Linked DNA regions of Homo sapiens: all the other regions are reported to be linked to region 1. Evidence: microRNA targets listed by miRTarBase, many of them from high-throughput screens and not tested one by one. Region 1 holds a microRNA gene; each other region holds the end of a gene's coding sequence.
Evidence for each region. The annotated mature microRNA hsa-miR-155-5p reads UUAAUGCUAAUCGUGAUAGGGGUU and lies in region 1 at 1,488-1,511, shown strand. An mRNA with a match to its seed (bases 2 to 7 or 8) in the 3' UTR can be bound and repressed. Matches are read on the target gene's strand: a 7mer-m8 pairs with bases 2 to 8, a 7mer-A1 pairs with bases 2 to 7 and ends in A, and an 8mer does both.

Region 2: miRTarBase lists INPP5F as a target of hsa-miR-155-5p. Seed matches in the 3' UTR shown: 8mer at 908-915.
Region 3: miRTarBase lists PICALM as a target of hsa-miR-155-5p. Seed matches in the 3' UTR shown: 7mer-m8 at 1,357-1,363, 7mer-A1 at 1,369-1,375 and 7mer-m8 at 1,454-1,460.
Region 4: miRTarBase lists MAT2B as a target of hsa-miR-155-5p. The part of its 3' UTR that is shown has no 7-base or 8-base seed match.

What each region holds. Positions count from the first base shown.
Region 1 is chr21:25,572,496-25,576,563 of GRCh38, forward strand. It overlaps MIR155 (microRNA 155), which reads left to right and starts at 1,485; the gene lies at 1,485-1,549. MIR155HG (MIR155 host gene) reads left to right here. Exons shown (of 3, transcript NR_001458.3): 3 at 1,398-2,673. RefSeq lists a silencer at 1,429-1,608 and enhancers at 3,160-3,309, 3,702-3,751.
Region 2 is chr10:119,827,497-119,831,564 of GRCh38, forward strand. It overlaps INPP5F (inositol polyphosphate-5-phosphatase F), which reads left to right. Exons shown (of 20, transcript NM_014937.4): 20 at 1-1,651. The coding sequence ends at 284. MCMBP (minichromosome maintenance complex binding protein) reads right to left here. Exons shown (of 16, transcript NM_001256378.2): 16 at 1,944-4,068. The coding sequence ends at 3,978. Among named protein-coding and RNA genes, the nearest start is that of MCMBP, 43 kb to the right of the region's middle.
Region 3 is chr11:85,955,574-85,959,641 of GRCh38, reverse strand. It overlaps PICALM (phosphatidylinositol binding clathrin assembly protein), which reads left to right. Exons shown (of 20, transcript NM_007166.4): 20 at 582-2,467. The coding sequence ends at 596. Among named protein-coding and RNA genes, the nearest start is that of CCDC83, 100 kb to the right of the region's middle.
Region 4 is chr5:163,517,582-163,521,649 of GRCh38, reverse strand. It overlaps MAT2B (methionine adenosyltransferase 2 non-catalytic beta subunit), which reads right to left. Exons shown (of 7, transcript NM_013283.5): 6 at 3,976-4,068; 7 at 2,296-3,457. The coding sequence ends at 3,287. Among named protein-coding and RNA genes, the nearest start is that of MAT2B, 14 kb to the right of the region's middle.

The sequences.
Region 1 (4,068 bases):
TTTAATACCTGTGCTCATATGTTATCTTTAAAGAACAGGAATAAAATTTATGGGTAGAATAGTATGCCAGCAATTTACCTTCAATACAAATTAAACACATCTTTTAAGAAAAGGGCGAGTTATATTGGCTGGGGTGGCACTAACACTACATTATTAATATGTATTTATTGAGCATTTACTGTGTCCAGGACCCTGTAAGGGGGAAAAAAAGTCCTTGTTTTTACAATCTTTATTGACTGAAATTCTGTAAAATGAATTGAATTCCTGAAGTGACATCATTTAACCCAAATTTTTTCATCATCAACTAATTCATCTCAGAAAACAGTAAAGTTTAAAAAAAAATACTATCAGTAAGAATAATATATTTCCTTGGTTTGGAAATTTCCAAACCACGATATTCTGCCCTGTCAAAATATATTCACTGGGGAATTTTTTACTTCATACGTTTCTTTTGAACTTAGTCACATTTTTATATCTAGCTGGTTTCATTATTAAATAAAAGAAAAGGTGATTCCCCTCTTGTACTGCAGGAGACCACATACTTGAATGATACTCTAACTTCTAGGTTCTGTTATAGTAACACTGAAATCAGAAACCTGTGGGAGAAATGTCACTTTATCTGAGAGAGTAAAATCAGACTCTAAAAGGAAGTAGCAAATTCATCTTGTTCTTTTTTTTAATCAACCCTCTGCCTAAGACAAGTAGTTTGAAACACAGAGGACTCTTTAAGTCATACTTCCTTTATGTAGTCAAAACCAAAGCCACTGGGTAGTGCTTTCCCCAAAGGAATCTCTAAATAGTAGACGGGGACATTTTCAGATAGATTCGTTTGTAGGCAAACCTCCATTGCTTGTATCACATTTCCTGAAAGAATAAAGGTAAAACTTCAACTATGTATTACAGAAAGAAAAATTCAGCCTGAACCCTACCCTTATAAAACAGGTTAATTGGGTTTTAATTTTCATAAATCATAAAGGACTATTTTGAACATTTGGGCCTTTAATTGTCTAGCTCCTAGATGAAGTACAAATCAGAAAAAAAAAAAACTGTACTGTGTCAGAATGCAAGCTTTCCTCTTTGCATTTTGGCATTTGAAAACTCCGAAGAGCGGTTTTTGTTTTTTATTTAAAGAAGATGATACATATGTGTACCCGATTCAAAACTAGAGAATAGAATTTAAAACATAATTTTCAAAGTCTTCAAATATGCCTAAAGGTAACAATGTCATCTTTTAATTGCCAATTTCTCTACCACTTTCAAAAAATTACTTCCAAGGATTTAATGAGCTCCTTCCTTTCAACAGAAAATGGACTATTTTCCTTTCAGATTTACTATATGCTGTCACTCCAGCTTTATAACCGCATGTGCATACACAAACATTTCTTTCTCTCTTGCAGGTGGCACAAACCAGGAAGGGGAAATCTGTGGTTTAAATTCTTTATGCCTCATCCTCTGAGTGCTGAAGGCTTGCTGTAGGCTGTATGCTGTTAATGCTAATCGTGATAGGGGTTTTTGCCTCCAACTGACTCCTACATATTAGCATTAACAGTGTATGATGCCTGTTACTAGCATTCACATGGAACAAATTGCTGCCGTGGGAGGATGACAAAGAAGCATGAGTCACCCTGCTGGATAAACTTAGACTTCAGGCTTTATCATTTTTCAATCTGTTAATCATAATCTGGTCACTGGGATGTTCAACCTTAAACTAAGTTTTGAAAGTAAGGTTATTTAAAAGATTTATCAGTAGTATCCTAAATGCAAACATTTTCATTTAAATGTCAAGCCCATGTTTGTTTTTATCATTAACAGAAAATATATTCATGTCATTCTTAATTGCAGGTTTTGGCTTGTTCATTATAATGTTCATAAACACCTTTGATTCAACTGTTAGAAATGTGGGCTAAACACAAATTTCTATAATATTTTTGTAGTTAAAAATTAGAAGGACTACTAACCTCCAGTTATATCATGGATTGTCTGGCAACGTTTTTTAAAAGATTTAGAAACTGGTACTTTCCCCCAGGTAACGATTTTCTGTTCAGGCAACTTCAGTTTAAAATTAATACTTTTATTTGACTCTTAAAGGGAAACTGAAAGGCTATGAAGCTGAATTTTTTTAATGAAATATTTTTAACAGTTAGCAGGGTAAATAACATCTGACAGCTAATGAGATATTTTTTCCATACAAGATAAAAAGATTTAATCAAAAAATTTCATATTTGAAATGAAGTCCCAAATCTAGGTTCAAGTTCAATAGCTTAGCCACATAATACGGTTGTGCGAGCAGAGAATCTACCTTTCCACTTCTAAGCCTGTTTCTTCCTCCATATGGGGATAATACTTTACAAGGTTGTTGTGAGGCTTAGATGAGATAGAGAATTATTCCATAAGATAATCAAGTGCTACATTAATGTTATAGTTAGATTAATCCAAGAACTAGTCACCCTACTTTATTAGAGAAGAGAAAAGCTAATGATTTGATTTGCAGAATATTTAAGGTTTGGATTTCTATGCAGTTTTTCTAAATAACCATCACTTACAAATATGTAACCAAACGTAATTGTTAGTATATTTAATGTAAACTTGTTTTAACAACTCTTCTCAACATTTTGTCCAGGTTATTCACTGTAACCAAATAAATCTCATGAGTCTTTAGTTGATTTAAAATAATTTTTATGGCCCATTTTCTTTTGCAAAGTACAAATTATAATTCCAGAAGCTATCTGCCAAAAAAAGACAATGGAAGAAAATTATGAGGACACTAAAGGGAACATTCCTGACTCCTAGGACACAGTATTCTCATGTAAGAATACCCATTTGGCTTTGCCCCACTTTCTGTTCAAGTTGTATGTGCTGCCAAGACAAATTTCTTCTCCTCACTTTCTGTTCAAGTTGTATGTGCTGCCAACACAAATTTCTTCTCCTAACACCTGGAATGAGCTTGTGGCTCCACGGAGCTCCCATGTAGGTAGAACACATTCAAGAGTGTTTCTTCAGGCCAGGCACAGTGGCTCACGCCTATAATTCCAACACTTTGGGAGGCCAAGGCGGGTGGTTCACTTGAGGTCAGGAGTTCTACACTACCCTGGCCAACATAGTGAAACCTCGTCTCTACTAAAAATACAAAAATTAGCTAGGCATGGTGGTGCGTGCCTGTAATCCCAGATACTCAGGAGGCTGGGGCAGAAGAATCACTTGAACCCAGGAGGTGGAGTTCACAGTGAACGAAGATCGTGCCACTGCCCTCCAGCCTGGGTGACAGAGTGAGACTCCATCTCAAAAAAAAAAAAAAGTGTCTGTTCAATTCATTTTATCTGCCACTGTATATCTACAAGAGGACTCCTTGCTTTGAGTCCCAGTTCTTCAAAATCCTGCTTGCTGCCTAAAGACACAAAGTCATAGAACATTAGGACTGGAATAAACTATTGTAGTATAACCTTCCTGCTGTTACAATAAAAAGCTATAAACATTACAAAGGCACTTAAAGAAAAGCTGTGCTGGGAAATGCCTTATTTGAAGAGCATTTGGGTACACTCACATGAAGCTTTGGAAAGTTACTTAATCTTCCTCTAAGCCTCAATTTCTTCATCAATAAAATGATGAATATATTTCATATTTCATAAGATGTAGGCTTAAATGAAATCATGCATGTGAAAAGCACAATGTCTATTATGCATTAAGTGTTAAACACAAACTTTCAAACTTTTACATTTCAGTCATTTAAATCAAATGATCTACCATAGCAGATCTCCCCAAAGACACTCTAGCTCCAAACTAACTATAATCAATCCCGTGGTGACGACCCAAAGAACCAGGGTTCCTGGGTTTTCTCTCACGCCCAGCCCACCTAGGCTTCTGACTGCCTATCTCCTCATCTTAGAGGGATTCCTCCTGACCAGTCATTACAAAAATTCTTGGAGCATGAGCAAGACTGAGTCTGTGTTTGGATTGGAGGAAGGGGTAAGTAACAAGGTATATATATGTATATGTGTGTGTGTGTGTGTGTGTGTGTGTGTGTGTGTGTGCGCGCGCGTTTGTGTTTAAGTTACAAACTAAGGATGGTTT
Region 2 (4,068 bases), not on the chromosome of region 1:
CCCCCACCTCCGCTTCCAGCATGCTTGAACTTGAGACAGGGCTTCATGTAACTCCTTCTCCTTCAGAGAGCAGTAGCAGCAGAGCAGTCTCTCCCTTTGCCAAGATTCGAAGTTCCATGGTCCAGGTTGCTAGTATTACCCAAGCTGGATTAACCCATGGGATAAACTTTGCAGTGTCAAAAGTTCAGAAGAGTCCTCCAGAACCTGAAATCATTAATCAAGTCCAGCAAAATGAACTTAAAAAGATGTTTATACAATGCCAGACACGGATAATTCAGATTTAGCTTTTAGCCATAAGAATCCTTCCATGGCTTTTATTTAAAAATATGAAATTTTCACCTCTTGGGGTATTTTAATTGTACTGTCTGAACCCAGGGATCACAAATTCTGTTCATTGGAAAGGGTTTTAAACGGAGTCGGAACCTGAGTAGATTTCCAAATTTTACAGCCAGGACTACAGAAGTGCATCATTCTAGAATGTGTAGACCTGAGTAGCTTATACACTACAGAGCACTTTGCTTATTTGAAAGTAATTCAGCAACAGGTCACTTTGGGATATAACCTGAACCTTTTTTTGGAGTGGGGTGGGTAGACTACAGTAGACACAAGGGCTGGACATGCAGATGCTTAGGGGATTAGCGTTTTTCATAATTTGTTCTGTTTGTCAGTTCATTCCTGTGTGTTCTTACCTCTACAAAGTAAATTACACATTTAGTTTTTAGTGACTTTAACATGTTACTGAAGCATTTGAATATAAAGCTATTTTAGTTTTGATGGCTTAACTGTTCCCTGAGGAGTTGAGGGTTATTGACACTAGAGAAATGAATTCTCATTTGATCCTAATTTTCCCCGTATTCTACTTGAACACATTAAAAATACTCTGCTGCCTATACAATGTAAACCTAGGAGCATTAAGACTTGTCACACAGTAAACCTGATACATCAGAGGTGAATACCAGCACCTATTAGGTTTCATTTTGCTGTTTTCAGGAATGTAAGAACACCCATATTGGCTACTGGAAATTCTAGAAGTCAGTCAGGTTTTAATTTATTCCAGGAGGGGCATCCTCGACATCTTATGTAGATGATCCACAACTTCAAAATTTAGTCTGGGCCTAGTGCAGTGGCTCACACCTATAATCCCAACACTTTGGGAGGCCAGGAGTTTTGAGACCAGCCTGGGAAACATCTGTCTCTACAAAAAAATACAAAAATTAGCTGGGCATAGTGGTGCATGCCTGTGTTTCTAGCTACGCAGGAGGATTGCTTGAGCCCATGAGATTGAGGCTGCAGTGAGCTGTGATCGTGCCACTGACCTCCAGCCTGGGGGACAGAGCAAGACCGTGTCTCAAAAACAATTTAGTCTGAAACACAATTGTGCTGAATCTGTCTGACTATAACTCTGACCACACAGAACCAGGGCTGCCCCTGTAATCCCCACAGTAAGAAAGTTGTATGGCATATTCCAACAAGTATTGGTTCGTCTGGTGTCTTTAGAGCTTTACTCTGTTGAAGTGACTGATTCTCAACTGAACATTATGTCGTTACTTTGATAAGCATTCCACTTTTGTTATTTATTAGTGCTATCTTTTTTTTTTACGTGTTAAATCTTGTGATTATTAAAATAAAGTACCATTGTAATTTAAAGTGACAAATGGGTATGAGAATTCCTTGCATAACAGATTAAAGAATTTGTAAACGGCAGATTTGCTATAACTGAACACTTGGTCTAGCTGTTGCCAGTATGTTACTCCTTTGAAATATACTCATGATGTAAAAAGGGAAATGGATCAGAAACTATACTTTAAATCCAAACATTCAAAACTGAATGCTTGCTTCTACCAACTTTTCTTCCGGGTCCTGAAAATATTAAGGGTTCCCAACATGGGAGAAAATACAACCCAACATTAGGTGATAAAATACACGTTTAAACTCTACAGAAATTAGTTCGAAAGAGATCTTTGAAAAATCATTTTAAGAAGGCAAAGTTCCAAACAGGGTTACACAGGAGTCTACTCAGTTTCCTGGCCATACAGGATTAACGCTGTGCCTTACGTTAGAGCAACAAACTTGACTGTCCGTGTATATATAGGTGAGGGACAAAGGGTTTCTGCAGCCAAGCACTGCACTCCATTCCGCTGCCTGGGCGGGCCTTGAGCAGGAAGGTCCCTCTTGCACCACCTCCTCCACTTCAGTTCAGCTCTCTCATGTCTTCCACCAAGAGGACATGGTCTTTTTCCACACAGATCACATGGGATGGTGAATCTTCTTACTCATGAAAAACAGCCCAAGGTACTGCTAATTTGGGACGTTTTATTTATTGGAAAGGTTCTTTCAAGGGAACTTTTCTGCAAGACCAAGCAATGTATGTATTTTTCTTTGGTAAATTACAATTTACATTGGCACAAAAAACACATGGTGACTAATGTACTTTGCTCTAGGACAATTAAAGAAAATGTATTTTATCCTCACAAATCCAGTGAAGCCTTCATTTTATTTCTAAAAGTTTAAGGAAGGTCTAGTCTACCAGTTATAAAAATGAAAACCAGTTCAACTCTAATATAAACATTATTTACATTTGTTTATAAAAATAGATTTGAGTTTAGGAAAAGTTGAACAACTAGTTATTTTTACTTCAGTTATTAGGTACAATGAATTCCTTGATTTTTCAAGGCTGACCCTGTTTCCTTGGTTAACAATTTCAATTTAGGCCTTATAGGAAAAAACGTAAGGGATCCTTTATCTGCCTCCAACTAGGTAAGTTATTTGATACCACTGACAGCTTAAAAAGTAATGTCCTAACCTTTCTGAAGATTCTGGTTGCCATAACCATGCTACTACAGTCTGTTGTTAGTTTGCTCTATTAAAACTAATTGGTCTGGAGAAAACCTACCTGCAGTTGTACGAGGCTGTTACTGGAGTAGCAGATGTTAGCTGATCTAACATACTTGGAACCAACTGATGATCCCATAAAAAATGCCAAAAATCCAATAGAATCAAAGCAACTCAATGACATTTAAGAAAATAAAAACTTTCTAAAGGGGGTATTGCTTTTTAAGTTTCCTATTTTGTTTTCATATTTGGGCACAGCTTTGTAGCACAGCATTCCCTTATGCATGGTTCTCAAATGCACTGGGATAGGAGAAAATAAAGACAATGTAGTGTCTTGGTTTCTTTTGCCCCCAAAAGCCACATTCATTCCGTTTAAAGGACTCCTCTTATTCAGAGATAGATTGTCCTTTCCTTTTATGAAAAAAATGGTGATAATACAGTGATTTATTCGGATTACTTGGCAAGGTAAATTGGCAACCTTATAGTACCCCAGATTTTTGGAAATATTACTACCGGTCCATAAAATACAAAAGTCTGGGAACCACTGCCATGTACAAGTTTAGTTTTGCAGGCTGTTAACAAATGTTAAGTGGGAAAAAGTTTCTGTGGCCAAACATCTGGGAAATGACAGTACAGAATTTCATGTAGTCATGTGAATCAATGGCAAGTACGCCTCCGTTCCCCAAAGATGGACTACTGAATGCACCCCAACCCACTGTGAACTGGAAAAACAGAGAACTAGAAAACATAAGAAATCCGAAGCACGATTCCTCTGACTTTGAAACTGCAACAACCTTCTTCATTTCAGCATTTCAACAGTCTGGCCTATGACTCAGCTGAAGCTAAGGAAATGGTACAATCAGCAACATTATCAATATTAAACTTTTAATATCAAATACTTTTTTTACATCATTACTAATTTATATAATTATTATAAAACAAACTTCAAAAGCTCCATGAAATCAGTAAGGTAAAAGTCCTTACTGAATATCATATAAACATCAGGTGTTACCAGGCTTGATTTCAGGAAATGTCACTGGTTTGTGATAGAAATTACCTATAAAACAATGTGGTATAAATGAATATCTGAATTTTACAATTATGTGGCTACAGTTTGCCCATTACTCTTCATAGGTATTACATCTTTAAAGTTCATTTCCATTCACACATTTTTGCTGCTGAAGCCTCGTTCTTCTTAAAGACTCTAGCTGCTTTGCTCTCAGCCATCGTTCTCTT
Region 3 (4,068 bases), not on the chromosome of region 1:
TTTTTTTTGAGATGGAGTTTCGCTCTTGTCTCCCAGGCTGGAGTGCAGTGGCACGATCTCAGCTCACTGCAACCTCCACCTCCTGGGTTCAAGCCATTCTCCTGCCTCAGCCTCCCGAGTAGCTAGGATTACAGGCGCCCGCCACCACGCCTGGCTAATTTTTGTATTTTTAGTAGAGACGGGGTTTCACCATATTGGCCAGGCCAGTCTCGAACTCTCGAACTCACCTCAGGTGATCTGCCCACCTCAGCCTCCCAGAGTGCTGGGATTACAGGTGTGAGCTATGGTGCCCAGCCATTGAGCTTTGATCATGCCACTGCAATCCAGCCTAGACAGCAGAGCAAGACTCTGTCTCAAAAACAACAACAAAAAACATTATTTGGAAGTCCCTATATGTGTCAAATATTGAGCTTTCTGGCACATAAGTTGATAATACTGACTTTGTTTTATAAACAGGGTTTGTGATAAGCATGTTGTGAACACTTCTGGGCCAGTTAAATGGTAAAGACCACAAAGCATTTTTATTTATGAGAAGACATCCTACAATACAATGAATTAACATACCCACTTTTTTTTTCCAGATACAGTTTATGTAACTTGATGGAAGAAAATGGAATTACTCCAAAAAGACAAGTGCTCAAGCAGCAAAATCCTTACTTCCAGCAAAATCCAAACTGCTGTCTCTTAAATCTCTTAAACTCTCTTCTTCCATTAGAATGCTACAAGTAACTCAGTGAAGGCCCATGAAGGAAATTGGGACTAGTTTATAGGAGAACGTATCAATACAGTTTATAAAGCCAAGAATTGCTATGATTTAAGACTAAGATCTGTCTTTTTGGTGACTAACCCTTCAATTCTTTCAACTCCTGTTAATACCCATAATCAGTAACCTATCAAGAAAAGCCCTTATTTGGAAAGTGTGAAATTTGTATTTGGAAAAGCTGCCTGGAGAGAAGAACTGTGTCCTTTACTGTATTTCAACAGGACTCTTTTGGGGGATCAAAATTAAAATTCCTAATTATGCATTATCTTTCTTTTCTCCAGTCCTCACAAATACAGAAACAATAACTGAAATTAACTTTTCTTTTTTTAAAAAAAATTATATTCAGTTTGCAGTAGACATTCCTTAAGTATTTGTATTTATTTATGATTATCAATTTTACATAACATTAATATTGTATCAGACCTCCTTATGAAAATGAGTATGGATGTGCACAGTATGTTTGATTTTTATCCACAAGAATGAATCTGATTCAGAATGCTTTTCTCAGCTGACATACAGAGCACTAAATATTTTAAGGCAAGTCCATAGGTCTGAATCTCTTAAGAATTCTCGGCCTCTGTGGGATTTAGGGAAGCATTATAAATGCATTAATCCTTATAGTCAATTCTGTGCCTAGGATTTTGCCAGGGAACAGTTCACTGACTAGGAAAAGCACTACATTTTAAATTCAGCATTAGTGCATTGGGAAGGATCTTTACTGCTTTGTGCTTGGCATGTCATTATTTTCCATTTGACATTAGGGCCTTTCCAAAATGAATGTGAGGAATTGCTTTCACTTCAAGACTTTCCTTCTTTTCACTAAAACTCTAGAAGGTGTTACAAGGGGGAGGGAAGGGGGGCAAAGTCCTTGAACATTTTCTTTGGCTCGTGCCATGTTATGATCATATACCTTTTAAATAAGGGGAAATAGTATCTTTAAAGTTAATGTCTAGCCAAGAGTTTAGTAAACGAAGAATTAAACTGCACTGTTGATCGGTGCTTTGTGTAAATACATCTTTAACATTTGGGTGGAGAGGGGCCTTAAGAAGGACAGTTCATTGTAGGAAAGCAATTCTGTACATGAGTTTAAGCATTCTTGTTGCATTGTCTCTGCAGATTCTATTTTTGTTTACAATATTAAAATGTATGTTAGCAAAATGGGTGGATTTTCAAATAAAATGCAGCTTCCACAAAAGTTTTGTTATGGTATTCTGGTCTGAGATGCATTTTCATTTTTCCTTTCTCTTTTTATTATCAATATTGTCATTTTTCCCTAATAAAATATACCCAGGTGATTATATTTGTTGATCTAATAACATGGAAGGTTTGTTTTATATGAATTTTCAAAAAGATGTCTCTTTACACTTTTTGTTACCTTGTAGACTCTTATTGATAAATGCAACTACTTATTAAAATTGTTCACTTTTTGTCTTTTGATCAGATGCCTTTAGTCAGGTAAGTTTAAGGGAAAATACGCAGTTTAATGTTTTGGTACATATAATTATGTCTGCCAAAGAAACCTTTGATTGTATCATATTGCCTATTTAGTAGTGCATAGGGTTCAGAGTACATGATAAAGGATCAAAAGCTTTGCATTGATAAGTGTCTCATAATATTTGCTGTGATTGGAGAAAAAATGTAGTCGTAGCCAATAAATTTTATCAGCTTTTAAGTTTCAGTATTATTAAACCATTTTCATATAAACTGGGAAGTTGTACTTTTATAAGTTACCCTCCTTAACTTTACAAATTTTTGTCTCTTGTGGTGTTTGAGGAGGTGTTTATATTTAAGGTCTGTGGCTTGTTTTCTTTCATATTGCCTTTTTTTTTTTAAGTATGTTTCAGTATGTGACGTGCTTCATAGCCATTTTTATTTCATTGTTTAAACAACTTTTGGGCTATGTTTGATAAGTGTTATCCATATTTTACCCATTTTATATGTAGGAATCAGAAATCAGAAAAGGAGCTGGGTGCAGTGGCTCACACCTGTTATTCCAGTAATTTGGGAGGCTGAGGTACATGATCACTTGAGCCCAGGAGTTCAAGACCAGCCTGGGCAACATGGTGAAACGCTATCTGTACCAAAAATACAAAAATTAGCCAGGTATATGCCTATAGTCCCAGCTACTTGGGAGACTGAAGTGGTAGGATCACCCGAGTCCAGGATGTTGAGGCTGCAGTGAGCTGGGATCATGCCACTGCATACTCCACCCTGGGTGACAGAGTGAGACCCTGTTTAAAAAAAAAAGGAACTTGCCCAGATGAGTAAGTTAACAGATGGAAATCAAATCTTTGCTTTCATGGTCCATTGTTCTCTCTGTGACCTGCTGTCACGTAATTCATATATATATACTGACATGGAGATTGTTTCCCTCTGCAATCTAGACTGATGGCCACTCTTTATTCCCAGTGGTCTTTAGTGAAGTACATTTCCTGCCTCCTCCTCTGATGCCCAGACATCGTTGACAAGGAAGAATGCAAACATGCGACAAGAGCAACTTTAACCAAAATATAATGAGTGAAGTAAATCAGCTATTGATTACATAATTACATCAGGCTGTAAACTCATACATGCTCATGTCATTTTACTATCCAGTTAGCAAGTAGCTATTGGCTGAGATAAGAGAGAAGATTGTAAGCAGAGGACAACTGTACCTGTCCCAAATCGTTTTCAAAATTATTTGCCTTTGATTTAACATCTATCAGCATTCAGCATTTTTTAAAAGGTATCCCTTTCTTAACAAGTGACTATGAGAATACATATTTAGGAAGAGGACTTCCTTATGTTAGCCTAGGAATCTTCTGCTTTTCCAGAAGCCAACAAAATGTGACTTATGAGAAATAGGCCTTAATGGGATGTTTTTCTTGAACTAAAAATAATTTCAAGGTTCTTCTCATTTATCGTAACTCACAAACACGCTTCCAAACTCTGTTTGCTTATTCTACAAAATTCCACAGAGAAAAAAAATCTCTCTTAAGAGTGAGTGTGGCTCCTGTGTGCTAGCAGTGACTAGGTCACAATGTATGGAGACACCACAGTAGTAAGCCAGATGAATTTATTCTTGCCTTCCAGGAAAGATATTTCACAGCTTTCATCAGTGGCCTCTGCAGTCAGCTTAGATCTTTGTTCTGCCACACTTGCTGCCTTCCATGGGTGTGACTAGCCCTTCTGGAATTCTGCTGTCTGAAGTTTCGGAAAAGAAAGGCTGCATTATCATCCATGCTGTCTCTTGCTGAAAACATTAAGCTGATTTCTTGCTGTTACTAAGAAGTAATGTCCTATTTGAAGTATCACCAATCCAAAAG
Region 4 (4,068 bases), not on the chromosome of region 1:
GTCTGTAGTCCCAGCACTTTGGGAGACCAAGGTGAGTGGATCGCTTGAGCTCAAGACTTTGAGAGCAGCCTAGGCAACATAGTGAAACTAAAAATACAAAAATTAGCTGGGTATGGTGGTACATGCCTGTAGTCCCAGCTACTCAGGAGGCTGAGGTGGGAGAATCACTTGAACCCAGGAGGTGGAGGCTGCAGTGAGCTGAGATTGTGCCACTGCACTCCAGCCTGGGTGAGAGTGACACCCTGTCTCAAAAAAAAGAACTGAGAATTCGGTTGCTGTCAGAGAAAGGTGCCACAAACATGGGAAGAGCCAAAATAAACCCTGTGGAACAAGACTGTAACTGGAGCTATCGATGTCAACTTATGGTTTCTTATACAGAGAAATGTCAAAAATATCAAGCTCATGAAAGACAAACACTGAGGAACTGTTCCATATTGAAGCTAAAGCAACATGGCGACACACACAAGTAATCTTGGACTGCATAGACCTATAAAGGAAACTGGAACAACTGATGAAATCTGAATGGGATCTTATGAAATTGAATGGTAATTTCTTGATTGTGATTATATTACAGGGTATATAGGCATGTATCCTTATTTTTAGAAAATATACACTGAGGTTTATATACTAAGTGGGTGATGAAGCATCGTATCTTCAACCTACTCTTCAATAGTTCAGGAAATAAAAATAGTATACATATGTAGTGTGCATGAAAATGATAGGGTAAATGTGCTAAATGCTGACAACTGGGGAATCTGGAAAGGGAAATACAGGCATTATTTATGCTATCATGGCAAATAATGAAATTTTTAAATGAAGATTTTTAAAAAGGACATTTTTGGCCAGGCACGGTGGCTCATACCTGTAATCCCAGCACTTTGGGAGACTGAGGTGCGCAGCTCACGAGGTCAGGAGATCGAGACCATCCTGGCCAACATGGTGAAACCCCATCTCTACTAAACATACAAAAATTAGCTGGGTGTAGTGGCGCTGCCTATAATCCTAGCTACTTGGGAGGCTGAGGCAGGAGAATCGCTTGAACCAGGGAGTCGGAGGTTGCAGCGAGCCGAGATCACACCGCTGCACTCCAGCCTGACAACAGCGCAAGACTCCGTCTCAAAAAAAAAAAAAAAAAAAAAAAAGGACATTATTTATATTATACAACAAATTCCAAATGAAAAAAAGGTCAGAGAATTGTATGTTATTCTTTGTGAGGGCGGATGGTGAGAGTATGGACACGTGAGTTTTTTGATTATATTCTTCTATATGCAGAGTGCCTCTAGAAACATATGCAAGGAACTGATCTACATCCATTTCTTCCACAGTTGAAAAACGGGTGGCTAGAGAATAACAACACTTTTTACTCTCCGAAACTTAATTATGCACTATATGAAATGTAGTAACTTAAAATATAAAACAAAATGCTTTAATTTAGTGGTTGCCAAATGCAATGCCAGACTGGCAACCTTAGAACCACCTGGGAAACATTTAAAAATAAATTAATAGGCCTCAATTCCCAAAATTTATTTCAGTAAGCCCAGGGTAGGACTCAGGTATCAGTAAAATTTCCCCAGTTAATTTCCTCAGCCTACTCAACATGAAGATAAGAATAAAGAACTTGATTATGATCCAGGCCAGGTGCAGTGGCTCACGCCTGTAGTGCCAGCACTTTGGGAGGCCGAGGAGGGTGGACTGCTTGAGGGCAGGAGTTTGAGACCAGCCTAGCCAACATGACAAAACCTCATTTCTACTAAAAATACAAAACTCAGCTGGGCGTGGTGGCGGGTGCCTGTAATCCCAGCTACTCGAGTGGCTGAGGGAGGAGAATTGCTTGAACCCAGGAGGCGGAGGTTGCAGTGAGCTGAGAATGCACCACTGTACCCCAGCCTATGCGACAGAGCGAGACCTTGTCTAAAAAAAAAAAAAAAAAACTTTATGATAATCTACTTCCACTTAATGAATAGTAAATATATTTTCCCTTCCTTGAGATTTTCTTAATAATATTTTCTTTTCTCTAGGCTACTTTAAGAATACAGTATGTAATACACAGAAGATAGAAATATGTTAAATGACTATGTTTATCAGTAAGGCTTCTGGTCAACAGCAGGTTTTTACTAATTAAGTATTTGGGGAGTCCAGAGTTATAGTGGATTTTAGACTGTGCAAGGTTGATACCCCAAACCCACACCGTTCAAGGGTCAACTGTATAATGTAACAAGATTATATAGCTATTAATTTTTAGTTAAAAACAAATCCGTTCCCACAAATAGATACAGTAACTGTAACATTCTAGGATGGGGTGGTAAGTTAACATTCTGGATCAAGTGTTAATTTTATTGTGTTTTATTTCAATACATATTAAACTATATTCTTTTGTATGTATCACATGTTACATCAGAAGAATGTAATTTTTAAAAATTAAAGCAACAAAAGAACAATTAGTTTAGAAGTTTGGTCCTTACATTTAAAAAAAGAAGTAAATACAAGAAAACTAAGCATTACATGCCAGCAGTACATATTTATTATTATTCATGAATGGTGAAAAGACTTACAAGGCCCATTATTATGAGTATAACCACACATATGAAATATCACTTAGCGGCAACATGGGATGAAAAGGACAGTTATATATTTATATTAAAAAAATACACGTTTGCATTCAATGTTTGCCTAGAAAAAAAATACATGTACACACGCTCTTTCAAGTGCTCCCCATAAACTGCTATAAAAGCAGGAGGCATCAAGCTGTAGAAGTTCCAATATACATAACATGTTGAAATATCTCAAGCATAAAAACTGTACGTAACTTGCAAAAATAAAGTTCCTTTCTTCAAACATTTTGATCTGAGCTCAGGCAAAGCAAATAATGAACACCAATGATTTTTATACTATTTCACACAATTTAAAATAATCAACATGAAAAGGTCAACAGCTTCAAAAATCCTGAAAATATGGAGGTTACGAGAATGAACAATTTCATCTGAAAAGTCTACAGCAGATCTGCTTCATCCTGACTCTCAAATATTTAAGGATCATAATTTACTATACTCAAACTCCAAGTTTAGCCAGGACAAACAAAATGATAAAAAGAAAAATTACTGCAAACAGGGCATGACTGCCCTTTAGTTTCTTTAGACAATTTCACTAGTGCAAGAGCATCATTTACCTGAAAGATCCTAAGAGTCACAATTAAAGTACTCATACAAAACTATTTCCTTTGTTCTTTAAAAAGTGCCACATACTATACTTTTCATTTAAAAAAAAAAAAGAACCCAACACAAATAAACTAATGAAAGACCGTTTGTCTCCATCTCTTGTCAATGAGGAAAGGCCAAAGTGATTCTTTGATTCCAATTCGAAATGGTGTTCGTTGGCCAATGCCCAAGGTCTCCAATTTGGAGCAGTCAAGCTGAGCATTTCTCGGACGTTGTGCTCCTAGGACAGGGCTGTCAGTAATCTTTAAAGAAAGATAAACACAAAAAAATCAAAAGTAAGTGAAAGGCTATATTTTGAGGGCTTTGTTCCCCCTGACCTTTTTTTAAATATGTATATATTTTTAAACAGAGATGAGATCTCCCTCCATTGCCCAGGCTAGTCTCAAATTCCTGGGCTCAAGGGATCCTCCTGCGTCAGCCTCCCAAAGTGTTGGGATTACAGGCATGAGCCATTGTGCCTGGCCATTTTGAGGTTTTATATTTGCTACTTATTTTTGCTCTTAGTGTAAGAAATCTGATTTGATCATCCCTGGAAAAATAAACCAAATGCCTGTCATGATCAAGACAATAATACATTTTCTACAAACTTCAATACTCATGATCTTCTCTACAGATGATAATTTAGAGAAAAGTAGCACTATGAACAGCCAGCATACAAGCAAAGTTCACTTTGATTAGTACTGAGAAATGAAGTTACCCAACACAGCAATAATATATACCATAGCAATGGATCTAAAGGTTTTTACAGCCATGTACTTACAGGTCTTAAGTGACTGCTGGGGAGGTTGAAGGCATCTGCAATTGCACATGCCATTTCATACTTAGTCATCTGTTCATTGCCAGACCAGTGAAA